Linked DNA regions of Homo sapiens: region 2 is linked to region 1. The links come from fine-mapping of genetic effects on gene expression. Tissue or cell type: blood mononuclear cells. Region 1 holds a variant in brackets; the other region holds the start of a gene. All regions are shown on one strand. Distances are between the middles of the regions.

Region 1 (8,104 bases):
TTGGACGAGACCTGTGTTTGTTTTCTCACTAGGAAGATGAGGGAAGGGGGGCGGGGAATAAGGGAAGGGGAGCGGGGAATAAGGGAAGGGAGCGGGGAATAAGGGAAGGGGGCGGGGTGGGGGGAGATGACAGTTGGACTGTTGTGGAAAGTAGTAAGACAAGGCGTGTGCGGGACCGAGCGCTGGGCCTGGCACCTAGTGACGAAGTAAACACACAGGCAGGTAATGCTAACTCCGGCTGTTTGAGTCTTCTGCCAGCGAGGGCAGGGCAGGTGGGGCAAGCGGTGGTGAAGCGGGTTCCGGGGGCTCGGTGAGTCTGAACACTGGCTCGCCTGGAAGGTTGGAGCCACCCTGCCAATCAAGCAGCCGTGCTATTTCGCGCCCTCGACTAGAGGGGCCAGAATTAATTTTAAAAGCTTTTCTTTGTTGATGGGATTAAACACAGAGTGCTAAACTTCCGTAACACCATCCTTTATGAAAGGAAAAAAAAAAGCATTTGTAAACCTATTTACTAATTAAGAGCCCAAACGAGGGGGGAAATGCACGGAGCACCGAGGCCTTTTTTGTTGTTGTTAATTCTTGGTTATCTATATGCTCTTATTGCCTCCCTATTATAGGCTCCTACACTCACAAAGCCTCAAGCTGGGTTCTCTGCTTGTAAAGTCTGCCCAGAGAATGCAAATTATTGGCCAGAGCAAAAGAAAATCAAGAAGAAAAAGTCTGCTAAAAAGCGCCACTTACTGAACATTTCCCTTTGTGTCCTCATCTAATCTGTACAATGACCCAGTGAAGAATTTAGGTTGCACCATTTGAAAATACTTTTTGGAAGTAGAATATGGTTGAAAGTTGGCAAGTTCATAGAATTCAACTTATTTTCATTCCCATTTTACAGATGGGAAAAGTCTCAGAGACAGCAGATGATGTCCCTGTGGTCTCAGGTCGTCCAGTAGGTGGGTGAACTGGGACTTGAAATCAGGTCTGATGTCCAGATCTGCTCCTGACTGCTATGGTACAGTGTCATAAGTGAGTTTTGGCTTCTGGTCTACCTGAAGGCTGCCGTCTTTAGTGAAGTGTGGGCTTAACAGAGTGCAAATACCACTCTACTTTGTGTTTTCAGAAAACAAAGGATGGCCAAGCTCATGGACTCTAGTGATACAAGTTGGATGGATATTGATGAAATGGTCAAAAGAGCCCCACAGTGGATGTGTTATCTTGGGCAAATGGCTAAACCTCTCTCGGTTTCCTCAAGTGTTGGTGTCTCCTTCATAGGGTGTTTGTAAATAAATGAAATAATGAGTATGAAAGCTATTACCCAATGCCTGGCACACAGTGAATGTTTGATAACTGGAAAGAACACTAATTTTTAGATTGAATGGATCCCATTTAGAAAAACAAAATATTTTAGAGTTGCATTTTTTAATGAAAAGAAAAAAGTGGGGGCCGGGCACGGTGGCTCACGCCTGTAATCCCAGCACTTTGGGAAACTGAGGCGGGTGGATCACCTGAGGTCGGGAGTTTGAGACCAGCCTGACCAACATGGAGAAACTCTGTCTCGACTAAAAACACAAAATTAGCCAGGTGTGGTGGTGCATGCCTGTAATCACTGCTACTCGGGAGGCTGAGGCAGGAGAATCGCTTGAACCCAGGAGGCGGAAGTTGCAGTGAGCCGAGATCGTGCCATTGCACTCCAGCCTGGGCAACAAGAGCAACACGCTGTCTCAAAAAAAAAAAAAAAAAAAAAGAAAGAAAGAAAAAAGTAATGGCAAAATTTGGATACAAGATGATACTCGAAAAACAAATAGCTGGGATCATTTAAAAAGTTTGCCATAATAGCTTTTCAGTTATAAGGTAAAACAACAATGATAGCTTCACAGAACAGAGCATATGGGATTCAAAAGGCATTCAGCTTCCTCTAAAGGTTGTGCCTAGATTCAATAACAGGAAATGTGAAACTTTCCCTGTTTCCTTAGACCTCCTTTCCTTGCACTTCATGGAAGCTTTTTTGGTTTTGCTTTTGTTTTAATGGACAGGTAGCCTGGGTTGCAGTGTGAGGGAGACAGACCACAGAGACATGTATGAATAACAGCAAAAAGGAAACAGAGAAGCTACTGGAATTTGATCAACAGTAAACAATGTACTGAGAACACACATTTACAACACATGTATGCTCATCAGTCGTCAGGTCTTCATTAAGTATCTAGCACATTTTGACCCAGAGATAAATGCTTTGGGCATGGGGGGGAGAGAAAGAACTGGTCAAGGTATCCTGAAAAGTCTTTGAGTGAAGTTCTTAGATAATGCCTATTCATTTACCTGCTCCTATATTCATTCATAGTATATTTCTGCTAAACGAGGCAGACATAGAATGAAAAATTGAATTGAATGTGGAATTAGACAATGGGGAAGAGAGATCCAAACTAAACAAGGTCTCGATTCCAATTTCCTATGATGTACAATCTGTTGTCATGGGACAGCAAGACAAAGGGAAATGACTACTGGCATGCGTGTGAGTTTAATGAGGAACATTAGTGGAACATACCTTATCTCTCCTCCCAGTATGGAAAAATCTGTGTAAGAGAAGGAAGTCCTTAAAATAGTATCCTATGACCATCAACCCCACTAAAACAGTGAAATCTGAGGTGGTGAATCTCCTTTTACAAACCAGTTCTGATATATTTCTTGTGGGGGGGGAAAAACTCTTAAGAAAGAGAAAAAGGGAAAGGGTTTCTGTAGTTCCTCTGTATATTTTTAGAAAAATGGCATCACTTTGCAGACTTGAATCTAGAGTCTGAGGGTTATAAGCCACCTTCCTCAGTGTTTCCACTACATCTTTTCAGCCTGGCAGCTCTTCAGATATACGAGTTTCTACCACTCATTGGTCATTTCTTAACTAGAGTGAACAAAATTGTTGGCTTTTTAAGGAAATTGCCTGTCTGGTGGGTAAAGCGTATCTATTTGTAAGGTGTCAAGAAACAGATAATAAAATAGATCCATTTCTGCTAACACAATAATACTCCTTTAATCTGAGCCAGTGCTATGACTCATCTGCCTGTCTCCTCTTGTGGGATGGAAAGGGAGCTGTCTGCAAACCTTCAGCAGTGGGAGGAGGGAAGGAGATACTTTTCACACGCTAGGACTGCTGCTCTGCTTTGAAAACCCACCAGCTCTAGAACCGCTGTTTTCTGTAGGCTGAAGTGGCCTTTGGTCCTTAGAGGTGAAAGGTTGGCCCTATTTTTAATCATTTGTCTCAAGGTAGACTTTGGTCCCAAGGAAGCTTCTACCCAGAGCTGAGGGGGCCTCCATGGGACTGTAGGTAAGCTGGAGAGCAGGGTCCAAGCTAGCTTGATATCCATCTAACAGAACATGGTGCTAGAAGACAGCCTTGAGAAAGGGAGCTTTCCTATTTCTTTCTTGCCAGTAAAAATAAGCTTTTATTTGTCTCCCCTCTTATTTAAAAAGTAATGCAGATTACTAGAAAAATTGGAAAATACATATAAACAAAAAAGAATATAAATTAATTCGTAATTTTACTAATTGCA[G/A]TCACGGTTAACATATCTTTTGAGAAGTTTCCTTCTGTGTGTGTACAGTATTCTGCTTTTGTAAATTGCTTTTTCCTTTTAACAATATGTTGTGAACATCATTTCATCTACTCTTTGATAACATGATTTTTAATAGCTGTACAATATTCTACTGGATGAGTATACCATATGTATTTAAACAATCCTCTATTGTTGAGCAGTTAGGTTGTTTCCAATTTTCTGCTATAATAGCATCAATCAATATCCTCGTGTCTAAATCTTTGCACACATCATTAATCAATGCCTGTGAACTTTCAGCCTCCTTCGTTTTCCTTGGGAGAGAGAAACAAGAAAGAAAATTGCAACTAACAAAATAATTGCTGTATATATCCCAAGACTTTAAGGTTATCAAGAATTTTCATGGGTATAATCTCCACTAGGCAGCAGGTGGGTTATTTGAGTTCATTCTTGCATTTGTCCAGCATCAGTTGAGCCCAGAGGAGGTTTAGGAGAAGAATGCAAAGTTTCCTTCCACACTTTCTTTGTGGGCAGTGTGTCCTCTGCACAGCCCCATCCAAGTCCAGACCCCTTGTAGGAGGCAGAGGGTGGATGAGGCTGGCAACTTTGGCATCCAGCTGTTCTCCTGGGTTCTTAGCTTCTGCTTCCTGAGCTGCCAGCAGGATAGCTTTCTTGGTGGTTAATGCAATTATAGTGACTCAAAAGCACTGATACAAAGGGAGAGGGAAATTGAGAAGGAGAAAGGGAGAAGAGAAAGAGAGAGAGAGAAGAAAACTCTATGGGCCCAACCTCTGTTGTGCCCTAGCCCAACCCTATGGGGTTATTTATAAGCCCTTTAAATAGCAGCACCAGGATCTTAGGTTCACTGAGAGCCTCCCTGATCACACATGGTGTGTGATCTCACTTGTGGCATTCATTTTGGCTATGGGATGTGACTCCACTGCTGCATGAGAGCTGTTCTTACAAGCATCTACACAGCTTGTATGTGGGTACCCTAAGTGACTGTTGAGCTCTGCCCAGTGCCTTCCCATATTCCTGGATCCTTACACAGCTTTGTGGCATAGAAAAGGTCAGTATTATTCCCACAGGAGAGAAGACGGAATCAAGACCCATGAGGTTTCAGCGGCAACTAGAGTCTTTGTGGTTTTCAGGATGATAGGAAAGTACCCAAAGACTGGGTGGGGCAATGTTACCCCAGTTCTCAAAGGGAAGAAAGGAGTTGATTCCGGAAATAACCAATTGATGAGTTTTTTGTTGCTGTCTAGCAAAAATCTGAAACAAACAGGTTTATAAATGGTTAAAGAAGAGAATGGTGATCACCAGCAGCCAACATGGGTTCCTTACCATGTCCTGCTAAAATAACCATGTTAACTTTCTTTAAACAGAGTCATGAAGTATATAAATCAAGATAATTTTATTTGACTTGGGATGTATCAAGTATTTGTTGAGTATCCTCTGTGTTTCAGGTGCAAAATGAAGGGAAGTGACTGTCACAGATACCATATGTTGTGATTTAAGTTTTGAGGAGGTCTTACACAGTTTCCTTGCTGCTAGGTGGATCTGGAGTAGGTTGAACAATCCTACCCAGTGAGCTTTGATTCATGGCTTTGAGTTACCTAGGAAGGAGGTATCCAGTGGAGTGACACAGAGCTCTGCCCTTGGCTCTAGTTTATTCTACTTATTTTTTTTTTTTAAAGACAACAACAAGAGTAGTGATTTAGAGAAAGAATTTGATGCTTGTGCTTATCAATGGTATAGATTACCATACTAACACAGGTAAGAGAAGACAAAATCATATGGGAAAGACATGTGGGTCTTAGTTGTCCATAAGAGCAACATGAGTCAACAGTGGGATAATAGCTGTATTGCTACAATAAGGGCAGGAATAGTTCTTCTGTATTGGAGCTAGTCTTACAGACACCTGGGGTCTTATGAACATCTGGTGCCACATTTTAAGAAGACATATCAGGGATCTCCCCAAGGTGGGGGAATCAAGATGATGAAAGAGGTTTGGAAACCATTCTGTATGAGAAAGTTTGAATGTCAGGCTGGAGAAGGAAAAAAAACAAACAAACAAGGCATGACTGGATGGATGTCCTTAAATGTGTAGAGACTTAGATTCTAGGCTGATGTGGGACTAATGGATAAAAGTTATAAGAAGGGAGAATTTGGATCTTGTGCCAGTCCTGGCCTGCCTGTCCTTGCCCTTTCCATCCTCTGTATGGAAAAGGGGCTGACCCCTACAGGCTGCATTTGCCGGGCCCCTGTACTAGCTGTTTTCTAGCTGGATACAGCCAGTGGGAGGCACTGGCAGAAGATGGGCAGGTCAGGGAAGGAATATTCTCCCCTATCCTCTATCCCTTAATCTTGGCACCTTTGACAATTGCTATATCTCCTCTGTGACTCCAGCTCCTACCAAATGGACCTGCTGTGGTTCCAGCTTTCATGAGGTGACCCCAACCCCTTGGCTCCAGTAACAGCACCTCCTCCCTTTCGTCCTTCAGCCCAGGGTGGCAGTGACTTCCTGCTGCTGCTAATGCCTAGATTACCTCACTATCCTCTGTTTGGCTTCTCAGACCTGTGTAGCCAGTTACCTGCATTGCATGATCTCCTTTGAAAATATGTAAAATAGTGCGGGGCGTGGTGGCTCACGCCTGTAATCCCAGCAGTTTCGGAGGCCAAGACAGGCGGATCACCTGAGGTCAAGAGTTCGAGACCAGCCTGATCAACATGAAGAAACCCTGTCTCTACTAAAAATACAAAATTAGCCCAGCGTGGTGGTGCATGCCTATAATCCCAGCTACTCGGGAGGCTGAGGCAGGAGAATCATTTGAACCCGGGAGGTTGAGGTTGCAGTTAGCTGAGATCCCGCCATTGCCCTCCAGCCTGGGCAACAAGAGCAAAACTCTGTCTCAAACAAAAAAAAAAAAGAAAGAAAGAAAGACAGAAAATATGTAGGCTGGGCGCCGTGGCTGAAGCCTGTAATCCCAGCACTTTGGGAGGCCAAGGTGGGCGGATCATGAGGTCAGGAGATCGAGACCATCCTGGCTAACACAGTGAAACCCCATCTCTACTGAAGATACAAAAAATTAGCGAGGCGTGATGGCGGGCGCCTGTAGTCCCAGCTACTCGGGAGGCTGAGGCAAGAGAATGGCGTGAACCTGGGAGGTGGAGCTTGCAGTGAGCTGAGATTGCGCCACTGCACTCCAGCCTGGGCGACAGAGCAAGACTCTGTCTCAAAAAAAAAAAAAAAAAAAGAAAAGAAAAAGAAAAGAAAATAAGTAAAATATTTTCCTAGTTAGACCTCATTGATACAGACATGTACCAGTGGTACAGGAATAAGAAAGTGTTTTTTAATGATTACAACTAGATGACCATGGGTAGGGGTATTGTGGGAGGCTGGAGTCCACGACTTTTTGGATTCCTTTGGAAACTGAGACATGGAAAGGAAATGATGTGTCCAAGTCCTGGGAGTGGCAGAGCTGAGACTAGAACTCAAGGCTCCTATTCCCCAGACAGGCATGCTTTCATCTGATGCTGACTCTCCTCCTGCGCATGTCTTTAAAAGTATCCTCTCGTGGTTTATGTTAATCATCCTTCTGATCTATGGAAGGGAAAATTGAGTCTCCTAAATTTGTTTTTTTCTTTTAATTCTCTCATGTTTATGTGACAACCCAGTTCAATAATGCTTACTCACTAATTATTTTACAGAACAAATATCGCTCGCCAAGTGTTGAGTGGAACCTTTTGTTCCTCCCTTCAAAGCATTTTCTACTTAGAAAAGCTAAATACATGTTCCAATCTGGAAGGTTCCATTTATGTAAGTCTCTGATTTCATAACATCTACACCCAGTCGAGGGCTGTAGAAGGGGGAAGAAATGTTCAAGGTCACCTGGTCTAACCCCATCACTTTAGATATGAAGAAATAAATCTAGAAAGGTGAAGTGGTTTGCCCAGAGTTAAGAACAAATGGGACCAGAACCCATGTCTCTGGCCCTATTTCAGGATTTCCCATCATATTACCATGCTCCTTTATAGCCCTTCTACTCCAGCCCAGGACAGCAGTGACTTCCTGCTACTTCCTTTACTACATCCAGTTTTCATTTGGTTTCCACCCTCACTTCCCAAATCTCTCTCCCCATTACTGATCTTTCCTCTCCTTTTACCTCCTGTACACCAGTGTTCTACTAGACCATATACATCTGGAGTGGAATTAACAAAAGCAGGACTTGACCAATGCCTCTTTTCAATTTCTTTATCTTATCAAAGACTCTCTCCCCTCTCCTCCCCTTCTCTTCCCTCAGCTTCCCTCCATCTCCTCCCCTTTCCCTTCCCTTTTCTTCTTTTCTGGGTCTTCAAACTTTCCATTCCTCTCTTCTATCTATCCAACATTTTCTTTCCCGCCAAGTCTTCTCTTGGCATTGTCCTTAAACGGATCCCTCCCTTCGGTGTTCAAAGCAATCTGCCTGGTTGAAGCTATCAACCCTTCTAAAAGAGGAATCTTCCATGCCTGGTTGCCATAAGCCTTTGCTCATTCTCTGAGGAGGCATAAGTTAATGTTATCCCTT
Region 2 (8,104 bases), 190 kb before region 1:
TTAGTCTTTTAGCTATTGCATGTCCTTCTCCTATCAATGAAATATAATAATTTCATGTGTAAGATGCTTCAGTAGGTTTTTCATTTTTACTTTGAAAATGGTAATACAAAAGCTTTGGCTTTTATAAAGCATATCATCTCTATGTTGAAAGTATTAAATTCCCTTTCTTTTAAATTCTGACTGGTCTGAAAATGATGCCTCAACTTGATTGGCACCATAATAGTATTTGAAAATGTTCTGTTGAATGACATAAAATAAGGCAAGTGATTAACATCTCTAATGCCAAGGGAAAGAAAGAAGCTTTTGTCATACTTTCCTTTGTTATTTATAGTTTCGACCAGATTTCTCCCTTTCCCTGAGTCAGTGAATTCTGATACTGATGTCAGCTTCATCTTTTTCGGCATCTTTACAGACGGGAAGGTTAGAAAGCGAATCTTCTAGTATCCCCTTTTTAAGCCAATGGAAGAACCTAAAATTAAAAAACTATACATAAAACAAAATTTAATTTAAAGATAAAATATTAAATTCCTTTTTTTTTTGGAGACAGAGTCTTGCTCTGTCACCCAGGCTGGAGTACAGTGGTGCGATCTTGGCTCACTGCAACCTTCGCCTCCTAGGTTCAAGCAATTCTCCTGCCTCAGCTTCCCAAGTAGTTGGGACTACAGGTGTGCCACCATGCCCGGCTAAATTTTTTGTATTTTTTTTTTTTTGAGGTGGAGTCTTGCTCTGTCGCCCACGCTGGAGTGCAGTGGTGAAATCTCGGCTCACTGCAACCTCCGCCTCCCGGGTCCCAGCAATTCTCCTGCCTCAGCCTCCCGAGTAGCTGGGATTACGGGCGCACGCCACCATGCCCGGCTAATTTCTGTATTTTTTTAGTAGAGTCATAGGTTGGCCAGGCTGGTCTTGATATCCTGACCTTGTGGTCTGTGCACCTTGGCCTCCCAAAGTGCTGTGATTACAGGTGGGAGCCACCGTGCCTGTCCGAATATTTTGTATTTTTAGTAGAGACGGGGTTTCACCATGTTGGCCAGGTTGGTCTGGAACTCCTGAGCTCAGACAATCTGCCCGCCTTGGCCTCCCAAAGTGCTAGAATATAGGCATAAACCACCGCGCCCGGACGACAAAATATTAAATTCTAGGCAGGGCGTGGTGGCTCACACCTGTAATCCCAGCACTTTGAGTGGCTGAGGCGGGCAGATCATGAGGTCAGGAGACCGAGGCCATCCTGGCCAACGTGGTGAAACCACATCTCTACTAAAAATACAAAAAATTAGCCGGGTGTGGTGGCACGCACCTGTAATCCCAGCTACTCGGGAGGCTGAGGCAGGAGAACTGCTTGAACCTGGGAGGCGGAGGTTGCAGTGGGCCGAGATCACACCACTGCACTCCATCCTGGGCAACAGAGCGAGACACCATCTCAAAAAATAATAATAAAATAACAAAATTAAATTCTAAAAGAGTATCCCTTTCTGGCTGGGCGCAGTGGCTCGCGCTTGTAATCCCAGCACTTTGGGAGGCTGAGGTGGGCGGATCACCTGAGGTCAGGAGTTCGAGACCAGCCTGGCCAAAATGGTGAAACTCTGTGTTTACTAAAAATACAAAAATTAGCCGGGCATGGTGGCGGGCGCCTGTAATCCCAGCTACTCGGGAGGCTGAGGCAGGAGAATTGCTTGAACCCAGGGGGAGGAGGCTGCAGTGAACCCAGATTGTGCCACTGCATTCCAGTCTGGGTGATAGAGCGAGACTCTGAAAAAAAAAAAATTAAATGAATAAATGAGTATCCCTTTTAGATAAAGTTTAAATATTTTAAAATGTTCTCAATATATTAAAAAATATTCTTGCGAGACAAGCCAACAAATTGAACTTTTTTCTTATGTTCCCATATAGGTATTAAAACAACTTCAGGATTTCAAAAAAACTCATTTATTAGGTGACAAGGAGGTTACAGAGATTAGAGCAGGTATAACCGAAGATAGCTTGTAAGTGTAGCTGTAGCTGGTGGGCCGGTTGAGGTTCTGGACTTCGCGGTGCAAAATAATTTTGAAGTCCAAAGTAAAAGCAAGCAAAAGAGTTTATTGCAAAGCGAAAGTACACCCTCACAGCTGATCAGAGCGGGCTGCTCAAAGGTGAGACAGCATGCACTGACACTGGGGAAACTCCCTTTGTAGGAGTCTCACAGGATCATTCATGAAGCGGGGAGAACGGGTGCTGCTATTAAGCACGTTCTCTGGTTTTCTGTCGCCATGTGCGCTGTGGTTGTATATGCTAGTACATACACTGCATGTCTTATTAGTATCTTAAATCTTCACCCAGGAGTGGTGTTTTTTTTTTTTTTTTTTTTTTACTATTATAATGAGTATAATTCAGCCCAACGACACTGATCATGGGTTTCTGCGCTTGTGAGAGTTTGGGGATTTTCCCTTCTGCTCTCGTACCTCTTTGCTGCAAAATTTTCTAACCAGGAGCCTCGGATGTGGTTTGTACACTATGGGCTGGTTTGTTCTATTTATTTAGCAAGTTTGTTCCCCTTGAAGGGAGGCTATCACCACCTACCTAACCTACCTCCTAGAAACACACTAGGAGTACTGAGAGCAAATTGCATTAATCTCTGAAAACGCACGTATTTATGCCCTAAACCTACTACCTTAGAAAATTCTAGAAAACACAAGGATACTCCAGGATACATTTTACCAGCTAGTCAATCGTCATCTAGCCGCTTGAAAACTCTGTACATTTCCAACAGAATGAGGGTAAAAACGGCAAATAACACGTAAGAAACGTTATCAATGTTGTTTTGACTTTGTGAATTCCCTAGAAGGGTCTCAGCGACCCTGAGGTCACCAGACCACATTTCGAGAGCCATTGTACCAGACTCTGTTCTAGATAAAAGACGGAGCAATCGGAATGAATAAAATACTCTCTCTATGGGGAGCTGTTTACGTAGTGGCAACTGCGACCTGTTCTAAAGTGGAACAGAACCGAGCGCTGTGAGAGGGTGGGACTTGGAGACCTATCCTTGCCCGCCGGGCCAGGGGAGTGGGCTCTAGAAGGATGACCTTTCAACTGCGACCTGCTGAGGAGGAGTCGGCAAGGGTGGCCGCCGACCAGTTCTCTTTCCCGCCCACCTCCCCAAATCCCAGGAGAAGAGGGGCGGACGGGAAGCGACAGTGGCCGCGAGTCCCCGGCACGCGACGGGCTCTCAACCTGGCACGCCGAATCCTCAGGACAGCCCCGCTATCACGCAACTACTCGGGTGTCCCAAGAGTCGCCAGGGCCGGAGCCGCGCGCGGCGCCGGGGACCCGCGTGAAACCGCCTGTGGGAAGCGGGCGGGTGGCGCGCGCTCCGGGGACAGTGAGAGGCGGCGGACGGCGCGGGGACGTCCCGAAAAAGGCGCAGCCAGGAAGACGCAACTCCTGACGCGGTCTCGGGCTACGCGGAGGCGGCTAGTGGGAAAGGGGGACTCTGGGAGACAGTGCCTAACAGGGCCAGGCCCCCGACGGCTTCCTCAGGAGGACTCACGGTTCTGGGGGATTCCGGAACCGCTACCCCGTCGCGAGAAAGGAGGTCTACTTACGCGCGCAATCTCGAGCGAGCGGCCTTTTCCACCCCCGCGGTCTCTTGCGCCCTCTGGTGGCCTCTCGCGAGAACGACGCTGAACTTGTTCAGGTGGGACGCCAATAAAGATTTCTTATTCAAAAAACAGGAAGTGCCTACGGAGGCCGGGCCGGCAGCGGCGGCCGGGCATGAAGCCGGGCGGCTACGGGATCGCGGGCGGCGGCGGCATCGCGGGCGGCGGCGGCGATGAGCGACATAGTGGAGAAGACGCTGACGGCGCTGCCGGGACTCTTTCTGCAGAACCAGCCCGGTGGTGGGCCCGCGGCCGCCAAGGCGTCCTTCTCCTCGAGGCTGGGCAGCCTTGTCCGCGGCATCACAGCCCTCACCTCCAAGCACGTAGGTGCCCGCCGGCCCGGGAGCTCAGGGACATCGGAGTGAGGCCCCCGCGCCAGGAGGCCCTGGCCGGGCGGCGAGACTTCAGGGCCTCTGGGGTTAGCCCTCCGGCGGGGCTCAGGGGCTGCTGTGTCGGTTCGTCCTTTCGTCTGCCTGGAAGCTTCACTTTCCTGCTGGGACTGACAGCAGGGAAGCCGAGTTTCCACAGTTAGTTCTGACACTGACTCTTTGATCGGGGGCACATCTCTGTAACCTCTGAGCCTCCGTGTGTTTTCTCAACGTTGTGGTGGAAAAGTACTGATACATAATTCATAGGTTTTTTGTTTGTTTTGAGGATTGGGTGAGATGTCAAGCGTGTGAAAATACCTAGTGCGATGGAAGTGTCAGACATTATTTACCTTCCACAAAGTTTTTTTTCCCTACTCAGTTTCCTTCTCTCCCCCGGTGCCTTCAACTGAACAACAGTTCAGATGTCGCATACCTGAAGAGATCCTGTGAGCCTCTTGTTGAATATCTTTGGGGAGCTTGAGGTTCTTGGGTTACAACAACGTGTTGGGCAAAGAAAAAGCACAGTTCTCTCAAAATGTAAAATTTGCTAAGTCTCTGCCTCAAGTGGGCTTTGAAAATGAGCAGTTATAAAAATTCTTAAACTTTTAAAATTTTTAAATTTTTATTGACGGAGTCTCTCTCTGTCGCCCAGGCTGGAGTGCAATGGTGCGATCTCGATCTCGGCTCGCTGGAGCCTTAAGGTTTTAAAAATTTTAATTTTTGTTTTTTTTTGAGACGGAGTCTCGCTCTGTCGCGCAGGCTGGAGTGCAGTGGCGCGATCTGGGCTCACTACAAGCTCCGCCTTCCGGGTTCACGCCATTCTCCTGCCTCAGCTTCCCGAGTAGCTGGGACTACAAGTGCCCGCCACTGCCTGGCTAATTTTTTGTACTTTTCGTAGAGACGGGGTTTCACCGTGTTAGCGAGGATGGTCTCGATCTCCTGACCTCGCGATCCGCCCGCCTTGGCGTCCCAAAGTGTTGGGATTACGTGCGTGAGCTACCCTGCCCGGCCTTAAAATTTTTAAATTTTTAATGACGGAGTCTCGCTCTGTCGCCCAGGCTGGAGTGCGATGGTGCGATCTTGGCTCACTGGAGCGTCTGCCTCCCGGGTTCAAGCGATTCTCCTGCCTCAGCCTCCCAAGTAGCTGGGATTATAGGCGTATGCCACTACGCCCGGCTAATTTTTGTATTTTTAGTAGAGACAGGATTTCACCATGTTGGGCAGGCTGGTCTTGAACTGACCTCAAGTGTTCGCTCACTTCGGCCTCCCAAAGTGCTGGGATTACAGGCATGAGCCACCGCGCCGGGCCCCCACAGGCGCTCGATGGTTGCACGGATTGTGTAGTATACCGATTCACAGCTACAAGGAGTTTATATCTTAAAAAGAGCACGTGTTAATGTCATTATTTGTTCAACAGATGTTTATGGAACAAGGTTATGTGTTAGACACAGGAAAATAGAATTAAACACATTCCCTTTTCCCAAGGAATTAGTCATTCGTTTTGGGCTTAAGACAAGTATAAGCATGACTACAATGCAATAGAAGTGCTAAAAGAGAAGGAAAGACAGAAAAGAAAGTGCTCTGAAGGTTTAAAAAAAATATTTTTTTGGCAGCTCTAATAAGTTGATGCTATCCGGAGAGAACCTGCTTCACATTCCAGAATCATTACTTGTGGGCTTGTCTTGTTTTGTTTTGTTTTTGAGATGGAGTCTCACTCTGTCGCCCAGGCTGGAATGCAGTGGTGCAATCTTGGCTCACTGCAACTTCTGCTTCCTGGGTTCAAGTGATTCTTCTGCCTCAGCCTCCCTGGTAGCTGGGATTACAGGCACACGTCACCATACCCGGCTAATTTTTATATTTTTAGTAGAGACAGGGTTTCGCCATGTTGGCCAGGCTGGTCTTGAACTCCTGACCTCAGGTAATCCACCTGCCTTGGCCTTGGCCTCCCAAAGTGCTGGGATTACAGGCGTGAGCCACCACGCCTGGCCATTTGTGGCCTTAATAATGTTGTTTTTCTTAAGGTTTTTGTCCTTTGCTAATTTTTAAGGGATCCTCAATAAAATTTTTTAAAAAGTTATTTTTGGTCTTAAATAGCAGTTTGAAACTGTAGATAGGCATCCACGTGTATCAGTACGTCACTAGTGGCTTTTGAATAGCCATCTGATGAACATGTAATTCAGTGTGTAATTTAAAGGTAGCATGATATTAGCCAAAAAAAAATGGGGCCAATTTTTTAAGTGCTTAGGGAGATAACATACAATGCAGACAGTAGGAGTGACCACATTGGTATGTGTCTGAGATAGGAAGTTATGGAAAGGATTTGGGGAATGAGGAAAAGACAGGGAAGAAGAATGTAGTTTAAGGGAAAAAGACCTATTTCTGTTTCTGCTTTCTTACCCTGTTTCTTAATTCCATGAAGACTTTTTACTTCTAAGGGGAAGATGTGAGATGAGACTCTTTTCTTGGGCCAATACATGGAGAATTTCTACTCTCTCTCCACCTTTAATTTTTTTTTTTTTTTTTTTTTTAGATGGAGTCTTGCTCTGTTACCCAGGCTGGAGTGCAGTGGTACGATCTCGGCTCACTGCAACATTCACTTCCCGGGTTCAAGCGATTCTCCTGCCCCTGCCTCAGCCTCTCGAGTATCTGGGATTACAGGACCCCCAGCTAATGTTTGTATTTTTAGTAGGGACGGGGTTTTGCCATGTTGGCCAGGCTGGTCTCAAACTGCTGACCTCAAGTGATTCACTCGCCTTGGCCTCCCAAAGTGCTGGGATTACAGGCATGAGCTGTTGTGCCCGGCTTCCACCTTTAGTTTTAAAAAAAAACATTTTCTGCTATTCTACCATTAAGGGGAAGTAACTGAGTAAAGAAAAGAGGAAGGATGGGTTAGCCTGGAAATATTTATTCTCTCCAGGGATGGTTCTGAGGTTTGGAGAAATGCCTTTAGATAGATCGTAAGCAGATAGTATTTGTAACTCTCCTTTAAAATAATGTTTCTTTTAAATTAAAAGTATTGTAAATTATATTTTTCCGTTTAGATAAATGCTGTTACAGTTTTAAAAGACAGTTAATCAAGCATTTAAATATTTTCACTTTCTCAGGAAGAAGAAAAATTAATCCAGCAGGAACTGAGTAGTCTGAAAGCGACTGTTTCTGCTCCTACTACAACACTGGTAGGTTTGCATAGTCAGTGCCAACACATTTGAATTTGAAATCTAGTCACTGTGGACTCAATAGTGGCATCTAACTGATGATCGGTTGCTAAAATTTGATTTATCATAGTCAAAATGAATTATAGTTGGTAGCAACTCAGATGTTAACTTTAGCCTTTTATTGTTGACTGGTTTGCACCAGAACAAGATTTGCCTATGTGAAGTCAGGGCTAATGTGATGATGATTACATAAATGTGGAGATACTCTTGGGACCCTAGTGCTGATCTGATGTTTTTAATGTTATGCATTTGGAAAAGGTTGGGATTTCAACATGATATTTTCAGACCTGAATTAATATATTGTAGGTATATCTAATTTTATTATTTAAGACCTAGTTGTTTTTAAAGTTTGTTCTACATAATCTGATTTTTCAAACAATATTCAGCAACTATTTAATGAATGGTCATTCATTATTATGCAGGCCACTGTGGGGCTGTCCCAGCATAGCTAGATTAAAACTCAGTTTGATTTTTTTTTTTTTTTTTTGAGACGGAGTCTCGCTCTGTTGCCCAAGCTGGAGTGCAGTGGCGTGGCGTGATCTCAGCTCACTGCAACCTCTGCCTCCTGGATTCAACCGATTCTCCTGCCTCAGCCTCCTGAGTAACTGGGACTACAGGTGCCCGCCACCATGCCTGGCTAATTTTTGTATTTTTAGTAGAGTTGGGGTTTTCATCATGTTGACCAGGCTAGTATCGCACTCCTGACCTCAAGCGATCCACCCACCTCAGCCTCCTAAATCAAAGTACTAGGATTACAGGTGTGAGCCACCGTGCCTGGCCTGATTTTTTTTTAAATGAGATTTTGTTTCAAGCAACATATCTTCAGCAAATATTTGGTGAGTGTCTTCAGTATATAAGCCACTGTGGGAATGTTTTCCCTCCCTGCCAGTAA

The links. PIP is the estimated chance that this variant, and not a neighbour inherited with it, causes the effect.
Region 2: it holds the start of AP4E1, and the variant in region 1 is fine-mapped to the expression of AP4E1 in blood mononuclear cells (TOPMed, PIP above 0.99).

What each region holds. Positions count from the first base shown.
Region 1 is chr15:51,095,172-51,103,275 of GRCh38, forward strand. The region is part of intron 1 of MIR4713HG (MIR4713 host gene); the gene reads left to right. It overlaps LOC124903491 (a long non-coding RNA gene), which reads left to right. Exons shown (of 2, transcript XR_007064631.1): 2 at 618-1,311. It also overlaps a transcript of TNFAIP8L3 not described here. Among named protein-coding and RNA genes, the nearest start is that of TNFAIP8L3, 4.3 kb to the left of the region's middle. The variant G/A (reference allele first, on the strand shown) is at 3,540.
Region 2 is chr15:50,904,977-50,913,080 of GRCh38, forward strand. It overlaps AP4E1 (adaptor related protein complex 4 subunit epsilon 1), which reads left to right and starts at 3,707. Exons shown (of 21, transcript NM_007347.5): 1 at 3,707-3,952; 2 at 7,102-7,173. The coding sequence starts at 3,803. RefSeq lists enhancers at 3,300-4,041, 3,516-3,805, 3,826-3,995, 4,042-4,783.